Homo sapiens: one gene and its partners. The protein of the gene in region 3 purifies or fractionates together with the protein of the main gene of each other region. This does not show direct contact. Each region holds a gene or a part of one and is shown on either strand. Other genes may lie near its edges. The genes, in order: SNX18, STK39 and RELL1.

Evidence for each region.
Region 1: the proteins of RELL1 (region 3) and SNX18 purify together in Homo sapiens (affinity purification with mass spectrometry; 2 studies listed by BioGRID and IntAct, with this or other methods). This does not show direct contact.
Region 2: the proteins of RELL1 (region 3) and STK39 purify together in Homo sapiens (affinity purification with mass spectrometry; 2 studies listed by BioGRID and IntAct, with this or other methods). This does not show direct contact.

Annotation. Positions count from the first base shown.
Region 1 is NC_000005.10:54,520,628-54,524,380, reverse strand, and holds part of SNX18 (sorting nexin-18), read right to left. Parts: exon of another isoform or gene 3,335-3,753; intron 1-3,334.
Region 2 is NC_000002.12:168,163,961-168,167,713, forward strand, and holds part of STK39 (STE20/SPS1-related proline-alanine-rich protein kinase), read right to left. Parts: intron 3,448-3,753; coding exon 3,339-3,447; intron 1-3,338. UniProt on the Homo sapiens protein: Effector serine/threonine-protein kinase component of the WNK-SPAK/OSR1 kinase cascade, which is involved in various processes, such as ion transport, response to hypertonic stress and blood pressure.
Region 3 is NC_000004.12:37,651,647-37,655,399, forward strand, and holds part of RELL1 (RELT-like protein 1 precursor), read right to left. Parts: intron 1-3,753. UniProt on the Homo sapiens protein: Induces activation of MAPK14/p38 cascade, when overexpressed. Induces apoptosis, when overexpressed.

The DNA of each region.
Region 1 (3,753 bases), on a different chromosome or scaffold from region 3:
GGTCCTCTGCCTCCCTTCGGTCCCACTGTGGTCGGCATGACTCTGAAGGCTATGTGGCTCAAAAAAGAAGTCTGAGAAACCCCTGACGGTGTGGTATGAGCGGTGCCCACACCCAGTTTCGTGCCCAAGACTGTCCTTGGGCAGTCACATTTATATTTTAACCAAGGAACTGAGTCGTGTATTTCGAAAGCACCAACGGTCACCTTATTTTCACTAAGAAAACACAAACTGGGGCAAAGGGTAAGCCCCAGACCTGTTCTCTTTTTAGAGACATGAGGTCTTTTTAGAGAACAGCTGGGGGTAAATGCAGGGGAGAGGAGAAATGGGTTCAACTAAAGATGGAGTGAAAACAAAAAGAATGAACAGCCTCAATTTCTAGCCCAGAGGTTTCAAAAATAAGGATGAATTTGCAAACAGCCCCAACTTCTTAGAGCTTTTCTCTGTATTCCTGGCACCACCCTTTCAGGGCTATTTTTAGCTACAGGAGAATGGGGAGCAGACAGGGAAGGGTCTCCGTGTGGCCCAGCCTTACCTTGTGTGCCCTGCTGGGACTCCAGCTATCTTTAATTAATGTCTGAAGGACATCAGGCCAACTCTACTAGTGGTAAAAGGAAGCACAATGGTGAAATTCTACCCAGCAAGACTGACAGGCCCACTACTGGTATACCATTCCTGAGGTCCTGGGGCTTTTATTGAAAAAAGGCTCCATCTGGAACATTTAGAGAGCGATGAAGTAGAGTCTGTATATTTAAGAGTACAGAAAACAGGACTGCCTATTTACTTATCTAGTCCTGCCTCCCTGCTTCACACAGCCCAAATCGACAAATCAATTTAACACTATTTTACACCTTTTCTCTAGAAGAAAGACATTTCACTTAAAGGAACTCCCTCTAGCCATTTTTATTTAGTCCAAATTCCTAAACAAGGATGAAACCAGTATTTCTCATAATCTTTTACAGTCTTCCTTTTAGCAATAGTCGCAAGAGGTAAACCTAAATCTTTTAAACCTCAACTTGCTGCCACCTAGATTTAGCTTTATTAAATATTAGAGATTGATCATATCTTTGGAAACAAAACTGAATATGCCAAGAAACTAATAATAAAATATATTCCTCAGTACTACCCAAACTCCTCAACATCAACACTATAAAGGTATACTGCAGACAGGCATGATAAGGAGGGAGAAGATAAAATGCTATCACTTAAGAAAAAAAAAATCAAGACCACAGGGGTTACATGTCAGTGACAAACATCTGCACACTGCCTAGTCAGGGATTGATGAGCTACCTATGAACAAAGAACTTAAAGGACTCCTATTAGGTCAAAGCAAAACACAAATAAAATTCCAATAGATTCTGAATTCCCATCTAATGTACCGCAGACTACAGCAAACTACCGTCTTTCTTCGCTCAACTCCATTAACCTAAATAGTTAGACTCCATCCGTTGATGAAAAAAAATCAAAATTCCAGAATTCTCTTTTGGCTGAAGGAAGTATATCGCTTTCTTCACTTCTGCAGAAAGTATGTACACTAAAACCATTATTAGTTTAAAGAATGGGTTCAGTATTTAGTATAGTCAGGAAAATTTCAGCCCACCAACATTTAAGAGTATTTGAGTTTTCCACCCTCATTTTGCAGCTGGGTTCTCACCAGGATGGCCTCAGACATCCATCCCGTAACCAATGTGTTTTCTGAATGGGACATAAAGGCACACTGCAAGAGATGCTCACGCTACTGAAATGTCACTCAGGTTGAGTGCTTGGGAAATTCAGCAAAGAAGAATCTAGCAGGACTTGCTTCCCCCTTCCCAGTTTTTATTAATTAAGCCTATATGGGAAGGAGGAGGTGCAATGAGATGACCAAGTAAAAATAAAGCTATCAGGAAACTATATTAAAATATAATAATTTGCTGGAGAAACTTACGATGGGGTTGATAGTTAAACTGCAGCCAGCAGTTTAACACAGCACTGTCCAATAGAACTTTCAGCACTGATGGAAAAGTTCTATCATTTCTGTTGACCAATATTCAGTTCCTTAGTCACATTAGCCATATTTCAAGTGTGTAACAGTTGGGGTTGGGGAGGTGACGGAATTGAGATGCTCTTTACAACCACAAGTCCTGAATACGCTCAGAAAGCTTTTATCCTGGCTTATGATGTTTGTCTCATCTATACTCCTAAAAATGGCCTACACTAGCATCCTTGATAAACACTGGTTATAGGCAAATGCTTTTAGCCTTATGTATCGCACACTGTCACTTTAAATGGTAGTATTTTCTAAAGATGTGTCATCCAGGGACACAGGTTCACTGTACATTACACACCAAGGTTACAGCAGAAACAAACTATACTGAATATCAACTGCTGTTCTTTCCAAAGTTCCTAGAGATTATGTTTAGTGCTCTTGAATCTGTTAAGCCACATAAAATGATACTGGTTTTAATGAAGGAAGTTTTTCAAATCCCAAGTGACTAGAGACAAATCCAGTTCTATAATTTAAAAAAGATAAACTAGGCCGGGCATGGTGGTTCACGCTTGTAATCCCAGCACTTCGGGAGGCTGAGCTGGAAGGATTGCTTGAGCCCAAGAGTTAGAGACAAGCCTGGGCAACATAGCAAGACACCTGTCTCTACAAAATAAATAAAGAAGTAAATAAGCTATATATTTTTTGTTTTGGACACAGGGTCTTGCTCTGTCACCCAAGCTGGAGGGCAATGGTTCAATTATGCCTCACTGCAACCTCAAATTAACTCCTAGCCTCAAGCAATCCTCCAGCCTCAGCCTCCCTAGTAGCTAGGACTATAGGTATGAGCCACCATGCCACGCTAACTTCTTTATTTTTTGTAGACAAGGGAGTCTCCCTATGTTGCCCAGGCTGGTCTCGAACTCCTGGCCTTAAGGCAATCCTCCTGCCTCGACCTCCCAAAATGCTGGGATTACAGGCGTGACCCTGGCCATAACCAGATGGTTTAATAGACTAAGTAGACCATTGCTGTAAACTCAAAATAGATATTAGAACACACACCATACCTTTTCTAATATATAATTTCAAAAGCAGGCCATTTGACAAAGCCTGAGTGCATGGTGTGATTGACAGTGAATGAACTGATGCCAACCTAAAGTAGACAGACACCAGCGGCCCAGCACACATGTCCAAGTGTCTGTACTTGGTTCCATCCTTTCAACTGTTCACCAGTAATTTGCACAAACTCACAGAAATGTGTAAAAGGGCAGCCAGCATAGGTCCAGAATGATGTAACACAATGGAATTTAAATGCTAAATCCCTCCATTAAAGGCTCACAAAGGCAGTTCCACCAACACCAGTCAAAAAAGTCAAAGATTCATAACAATTTATGTTTTAAAAAAAGGCATAGGTAATGTAAATACAGGTTTAATACAGGCCAACAGCAATATGATTGCACAAAAAACGAATTCAATATTAGACTGCATTTACAAATCGCAAATTGCCAAGAAAGTTACTACTGTCTACTAAAATTAGTACTGATGTCCAGGGTACTCCCTTTCAGCGGCAGCAACAAGACTGAAAACGTTTGATCATTCTCCCAGCAAGCCCCTTCCCCCATAGGAGTCAGAAGACCAGTCACGCATTTGGAAGGGGAAGGAGAGAAGCAGAGAGGAAGGAAGCGAGACTGCTGTCTCCAAATGTCTGAAGGCGGTCCCAGGGAACAGAAAGACAATCAAGGGAGGCAAACTTCAGTTCAATACAAGAAAAGACATGCCAGAGATCAGGG
Region 2 (3,753 bases), on a different chromosome or scaffold from region 3:
AATAGAAACATCAAAATATGGGCTTTATTTAATGCAAATATTCCCAAGGCAAACAAACAATTGAATGGGGGCCCCATGACCAAAAACACTAAATCCAAGTTTGCAAGAGCACTTTCAGTGTGAATTTAACGAGAAGGATTCTGGGTCAGGGACCAGAAGGCTGTTCATGGCCGTTCCATGGCTGGTTCCTTTTCTGGTTACAGTATTTCTCACAAAAATTCCTAAGAGCAACCCTCCAAAGAGGGTGCAAAAAGTCTGAACTGACAAAGAAAGGAGTATGAGGCCAGGAGAAAAGGCAGAAGTGAACTGCTGAGAGAAAAAAAACACACTCTTTGAGGACCTAAATCACAGGTGGGAGGGGGAAAGAAGTATGTTGTTTCTAGACCTCTGCTTATAACCGGAAGATTCCTTCCTGTGACACTACCTGATCTTTATTTTCTTTCCTTCTTTTTCTTTTTTTATTTGAGACAGAGTCTGCCTCTGTCATATAAGCTGGAGTGCAGTGGAGCAATCACAGCTCACTGCAGCCTCAACTTCCCAGGCTCAAGCGATCCTCCCACCTCAGCCTCCCAAGTAGCTGGGACTACAAGTACGTGCCACCACGCCTGGCTAATTTTTGTATTTTTTGTAGAGATGGGGTCTTACCACGTTGCCCATGCCGGTCTTGAACTTCTGGGCTTAAGTGATCTGCCCACCTTTGGCCTCCCAAAGTGCTGGGCTTATAGGCATAAGCCACTGAGCCTGGCTGATCTTTATTTCATTTACCTGATATATTTGAGGCACTAACACTTACAATAAACAAACAGATACCTAGTACTTTGTTACCATATACAGATTAGTATCCTTGGCACTGTGAATTCATGTTTCAACACATATTAATTAGTATTCCAAACCCCTGGGTCAGTTTAAAAGCCAAAATTACCTGGGGGTTTGACATTTCTGAAGAGTTAACAAACGGCTTACCTCAGGACCTGAATTTGGCTCTAGGCTCTTTATAATTAACTAAGAGGATTGAGCTTCCCCATCAGATACAGCTGCCTGCCCCTCATTAAGAGATTCAATGTAATGAAATAGAAGAAAACAAATGCATATTTTTCCCCAGAGGAAAAAAAAACCTCTGTTTATTTGTTGACTCTTAGATTTTTGTGTCATTTAAAAAATGATAATTCCAAAAACATTTTCTTTTTATTGTATAAGGATATACCATACCAGGCATGCATGCATTTCTGTCCTGCTAAAAGAAAAATGAACAAGAGTCCACGTCTGCCCACGTCCTTACCTGTGGAAACCTGTTTAAAATCTGTTCTTACCTAAAGCCCAGAGAGGCTAAATTGGACTCAAAAAGACAAAGAAATTTTCTGTCAGATCCTCCTCAGAAAACAGAAGATTCTCAGCTTCATAAAGCAAAAGGTAAAATCTTCAGCTTGAGCAGAGCATTTGGGACTATTCAGGGTCTCAAGTCATCAGAATTTCTCATTTCCTCAGAGTTGGTGGAACCCCACAAAAAGAGAATGCCTTAAGATCATCTTGTTGGCAAAGCGCAAGTTCCTCTGCTGAATAAAGGGGCAGTCCCAGCACTCAATACTGCAGTCCAGCTCTGGCAGGCTTCCTTTTTCTTTTCCTTTTTCTTTTTTTCTTTTTAATTAAAAACTGAAGTAGGCACTCAAGGAAACAATGACTAATAAGACTGAGGAAGACTGAAAACAGAACAGAACTAAGCTCCCCAGGGCTCCCCACCGAGACCTACACAAGCAGACCCAAGCCAATTACAATGCCTTCGTCATCTCATTTTTGGGCTTCTGCTTGATCCAAGAGAGTTTCCTTTTTAAAAAAGGAAAACATTAAAACACCTCCCTCGACATCTGCAGATTAAAATAGGCTCTATCATATAAATTCTGCTATGCTAGTTTTGGGTTGTCCAGGCACAGCAAAATGTTCTCCTCTGATCCTAAACCATACTTCATGTCTCAGAAAGATACCCAGAGAATCAAGCCCTCGAAAGAGAACACACCAGAGATGTGGGTATGCTGGGTGTTCCCAAGGAAATCACTTGGGCTTTCTAAGCTTCAGTGCCCATGTCTGCAAAACGAAGGTGTAAATACTTGCAGCACAGCATACAAATTTTTAAGTCAACAGATGTTAAAGTCACAAATTCCAGCACCAACATTTACTATGTGTGTGACCTTGGGCAAGTTGCTAAACTCCCTTGAAATTTGGTGTAATTTCTGAAAAACAGGGATGGTGACACAGGCCATTCAGGGACACTGTGAAGATTAAATGGGATAAGGTCAGTAAATTGCCTTGGACAGGATCTAGCCACAGAGTAAGTGTTCAAAAAAGGCAACGGTTATCATTATCATTCCCTCTCTGATAGTGATGTTAGAAGATTAAAAGAAATAAAATACAGGATGTGAAAGCACCTTGTAAATTAAATTGTCAATGGCTTGCATCACTGCAGGGATCTGAAGCTAGAGAGAGGAAGTGACTTTCCCTTCCCAAATGCAACAATAGGATGACAATAGTGCCATTTCTGATCAACACTGCAAGTGAATATGTAGCACACATTTCTCCCCATGTCAACTGAAACCACATTTAGTGAGCACCTACTGGGCGCCAAGTTCAATGAATTCAAAGTGCATTAGACAATCTTCACAAAGTCCACAACCTAAATATGCACTGTCCAATACTGGAGCCATACAAGGTGATTTAAATGTAAGTTAATTAAAATTGAATACTCAGTCCCTCAGTCACACTAGCCACATGTCAAGTGCTTAAGAGTCACATGGGATTAGTAAAAAGTAGATAGCAGCACCTCAGAACATTTCCATCATCACAGAACATTCTGATAAATGGCACTGAGATAATTCAGCAAACTGCAATGTGTTAAGGACCTGAACAATGTTAAAAAGAAAGGACTCAAGGAGAAAGGACTGGCTAACTTTTTTGAAGAGTAAGCGGTGACTGTGGAGAGGATGTGACCTTTTAGGCCTGAGCACATGGAAAACAAAGGAGAGATGCAAGGCTGAGAAAGAGGACAGGTCAGGGGCAAAGGCATGAGAGCACATAATACATTCCGGGGGCTGCCTCTCAGCCTAGAAGGTCGGGCATTTCATACCTGGAGAAGAGGACATACACATTCTCGGAAGTTAAGCAAAATTATGAAAAGCTTTGAAGGTCAATGTGAAGCAATCTGGACGTTATCCTCTAGGCAATGAGAAACCAAACAAACTTTCAAACACAGGAGAGAAAGGATTCAATCTAAAGTCTTCTCCAATATGCTGGTTCCAACAAAAGGAGAGAAAACAAGCAAATAAATAACAACAACAAAATCCACTTACCTCCACTTAGTAATTTCATGACCAGCCAAAGTTCATCTTTGACCACAAAAGAGGTGTAATAGGTCACTACGTTGGGATGGCTGCACTGACTCATGGCTTGAATTTCTTTCTATAAAAAGAGCAAAACATGACATAGTACCATGGGGTGAAAATTGGCAAGCAAAACACAAGTGAATCACAGTTGAGTACCTGGGTAACTTTCCTACTCGAAAGCCTACCTGAGGGGCTGCCTAAGCCATTACTTCAAAGAAGGTATATAAGGACCAATTCTCTCACCCACATTATCAACTCAGATTAGAAAGTTCTCTACAGGAGACCACAGAGCCCTGTGGACCAGCTACCAGACACAGGAACTTCAGATCACTGTTATCACCCAGATGACCCCCCAACTCTGCCAGCAGAGAGCCCTGCCACA
Region 3 (3,753 bases):
AAGCCAAGCTACAAGTTAAATCCTCGGACCAGATGGAGGACTTGTCTTCCTGTTTGGTGCGCTTTCCTCACAAACCAATCAGCACTCACTCCCCATTCTGAGTCCATAAAAGGCCCCAGACCCAGCCACACAGGAGGAACTTCAAGTAGAACCATTCCCCCGAGCCCCACATTGCCTCTCTGCTGAAAGCCATTTTCATAGCTCAATAAAATTCTTCTCCGCCCTCCTCACCCTTCAGTGTGTCGTGTATCCTCATTCTTCTTGGGTGCGCTACAAGAGCTTGGGAACTGCTGAAAGTGGGTACAAGCTATACCACAGGGGAGCTGAAGCACGCCAGCGTGGCCAAGCAGGGCGTCGAGGCTGGGGCAGAGCGTCGCCAGCCAGGAGGTCCCCAGTTTACAAAGTGACCGAGAAGAAAACTCCTGCATCATAATGATTATAATGGGGACAATATGCCTGGTATGAAATGAGCACGGTTCATCACAGCAGCAAACAAACAATATCAAACAGAAGCTTTATTTGCAAACCAGAGGCCATAGAACAAAGACTACCTCTCTTTCGCATGGAAATATCCATTGTCTTTGAACATGAAAGGAAATAATTGGTTTCTTAGGTTTGTAAGAGGTTGCATTCATTACTTTATCAGACAACCTCCAGAATTTGAAATAGCCAGTGTTTTCTGATTTCTCCCTGAAGAATCAATATAATAAATACATCCCTAAATATATGCAATATACCGTCTAAGTTAGGGTTTAACCTCATGCCTTATTTTCAGGAAAAACCAGAAACATTTATTTAATCCCTTTTATGGTCCTAAAACAATGTTTTCTTTATTAATTCCTTTATATAACACATATTCCACGCAACAAGAATAGGTGAAGTAGGCAGCATGCTGAGATCAAGGAGCTTTACTCAGAATCACTGTCTGTTTCAATCTGGGGGTGAAAATAAATTCTTTTTTAGGGGGACAATGGGAAAGAGGGATGAAAGAGGGGCTCAGAATTGGAGTCAAACACCTCCCTCTGAATCAGGTGATTGAGAAGGTGTCTTCATCGTGAATTTGACATGTGGCAACCCCTAACAAACACTAAATATCTACAGAGCTCTGTGACTTACAAACATGTGTCATTCACTTAATTTCATAATTATCGTGCCATGAAAAAACTGAAGATATTAATCTACATTAGTGAAGCATATAAATTACAGGGAGAGGCAATATAGCACTCAGATTAAAAGCTCAGACCTGGCAGAAATAACAGACATGTTATTGGCCACATACTAGACATGTCACCTTAGGCGAGTAATTTTAACTGTTCTGTACTCTGTTTCCTCTCTGTTAAAAGGATCAAAATGAGTGTGACTAATCTGTGATAATTTTACAAGATGGCCCTGGGAAATAAAAATCTAATCTCAGACCCCAATTTACTATGCCAAAAGGAAAAAATTAAACTGAAAGCTGAGTCATTCAAGAAATTGCGTTTCCTTTTGTTCTTAGGCAGATAGCTACTGATAAAAGGTGAAGTATCTGCACAGGTAGCTACTCCATGCTCACCTTATCTTAGGTAAAGTGCTGACTGACTGACATAATTGACTATTACCCTGCCCGCTCCTTTTCCCTTGCAACAGGTAGATTCAGTAATGTGAACATCTGCTCCCTCTTTCCCCTTGTATTGAAACCTCAATACAAGTATTGAAACCTCAATACAAGTATTGAAACCTCAATATTCAATACAAGTATTGAAACCTCAATATTCAATACAAGTATTGAAACCTCAATATTCAATACAAGTATTGAATACTCAATACAAGTATTGAGTATTGAAACCCTCAAAATCTTCTTAGGAAAATGGCATGAACCACAGATTGTTCCTGTGGATTTGAGATCCTTTTCTCTGGACATGTCCTTAACCTTTGCAAAATAAACTTCTAAATTGACTGAGACCCGTCTCAGATACTTTTTGGTTTCCAGCTTCAAAATTATTTGATACTGCTTCTACTGAGAGGTGAGGTCTGTATCTCGTCCCCTTACATTTACACTCTACTCTCCCTGACCCACAGAATGTGTTGGGAATGATGCATTATCACTTTCCAGCCTCAGGCAATAAGAAACTGACAACTTCCACTTCCTGTTTCTTGGGGCACTTGCTCTTGGAACCCAGCCACCATGCTGTGAGGAAGCCTAAGCTTCCCTGTGGAGAGAAAATAGCAGGCATCAACTTATCAGCCAGTAATAGCCATAATAAAAGTAGATCCTATAGTCCCAACTGATGCTCCATGGGGCATCAGAGCTGTCTCTGATGAACCCTGCCCAAATTGTATAACAAATCCTTAAACAAAAGAAATGATTGTTGTTTTCACCCACTAAGCTTTGGGGTTATTTGTCATACAGCAATAGTAACTGGAAGCCTGCTGCATGGTGTCACTGTGAAGATTAAACAATATTAATATGTAAAGCATTCAGAAGAGTGTCTACAAAAAGGTGGGCACTGTATTTTAGTCATAATCATAAAAGACCTGCATTATTCAGTAAGATAGCCACTAGCCACATGTAGCTATTTAAATTCAAATTTAAGCCAAATGAATTTAAATAAAATTAAAAATTCAGTTCCTCAGTTGCATTAGCCACATCTCAAGTGCCCAGTGGCCATGTGTGGCTAACTGCTACCATACTGGACGGCCCAGATAATGAACATTTCCACCATCCCAGAAAGTTTTTTTGGACAGCCCTGTTGTGCATTATAAAGAATAGCTAACAAGAAAGATGCAGAGTGGAGAATATATTGTGATCTACCTTAACAATTCAATGAAAAATAGCTTTTAAATAACAAAGTAACTGTTCATACATAATGTCTAAAACATTTATAAACTTCAGTAGGTTTAGCTTTCCTTCAATTTACACTAATAATTTGCTGAGAAACACTGTATCCCTTCTTCTCCTTCACCCCTAGCTGAATCATGTCTGAATCACGAACAAGTTACTTAGTCCAAATAGCAAAGGTTGTTGCATTATTTATAAAAGTCAAAAAATAGCAACACCTGCATATTTGCAATGAGATAGTAAAAACATATCTAAATCATGGTTTCATTTGATGAAATAATATGCACTATTTAAAGATCTATGAAATTTTTTGTGAAGATACAGGAAAACACTATGATCCAATATTGAATTTCAAAAGCTGGATTCAAAACCTTACATGCAATATGATCCAACTAGTTTTTTTAAAAAATAAAAACGCATGAAGGTATAAAGCCAAAACCAAAATGCTAAGTGATTCTCGGTACTAAAATAATGAAATAAATTTAATTTTATCTTTATACTTTTCTATAACTTTCTAAAATTAGTATGTGGTACTTTTGTACCAAGATGGTAGACACTTTAAAAAGTATGTAGAGCAGAGGCTGTTAGTCATTTGAGAGTCACAAACCCCTTTGTGAGGTCTGATGGATGCTAGGATTCCTATTTCAAAATTTTGCCTCCCGGTTCTGTGACTTCTTGAACCCAAATTAATGTAAGGGCAAGTGATGTAATAAAAATGACGTCCAAGTTTCTGCTTGAGCAACATAGTGGACATTGGACCCATTCATTGTGATGGGAAATATATATATATATATATAAAAAGCAAGTTTGCTTGGTGTTATGGTTTGAATTTTGTCACCCCCTCCTAAATTTATATGTTGAGCTCCTAACCCCCAATACCTCAGAATGTATTTGGAGATAGGATCTTTACATAGGTCATCTAGTTAAAATGAAGT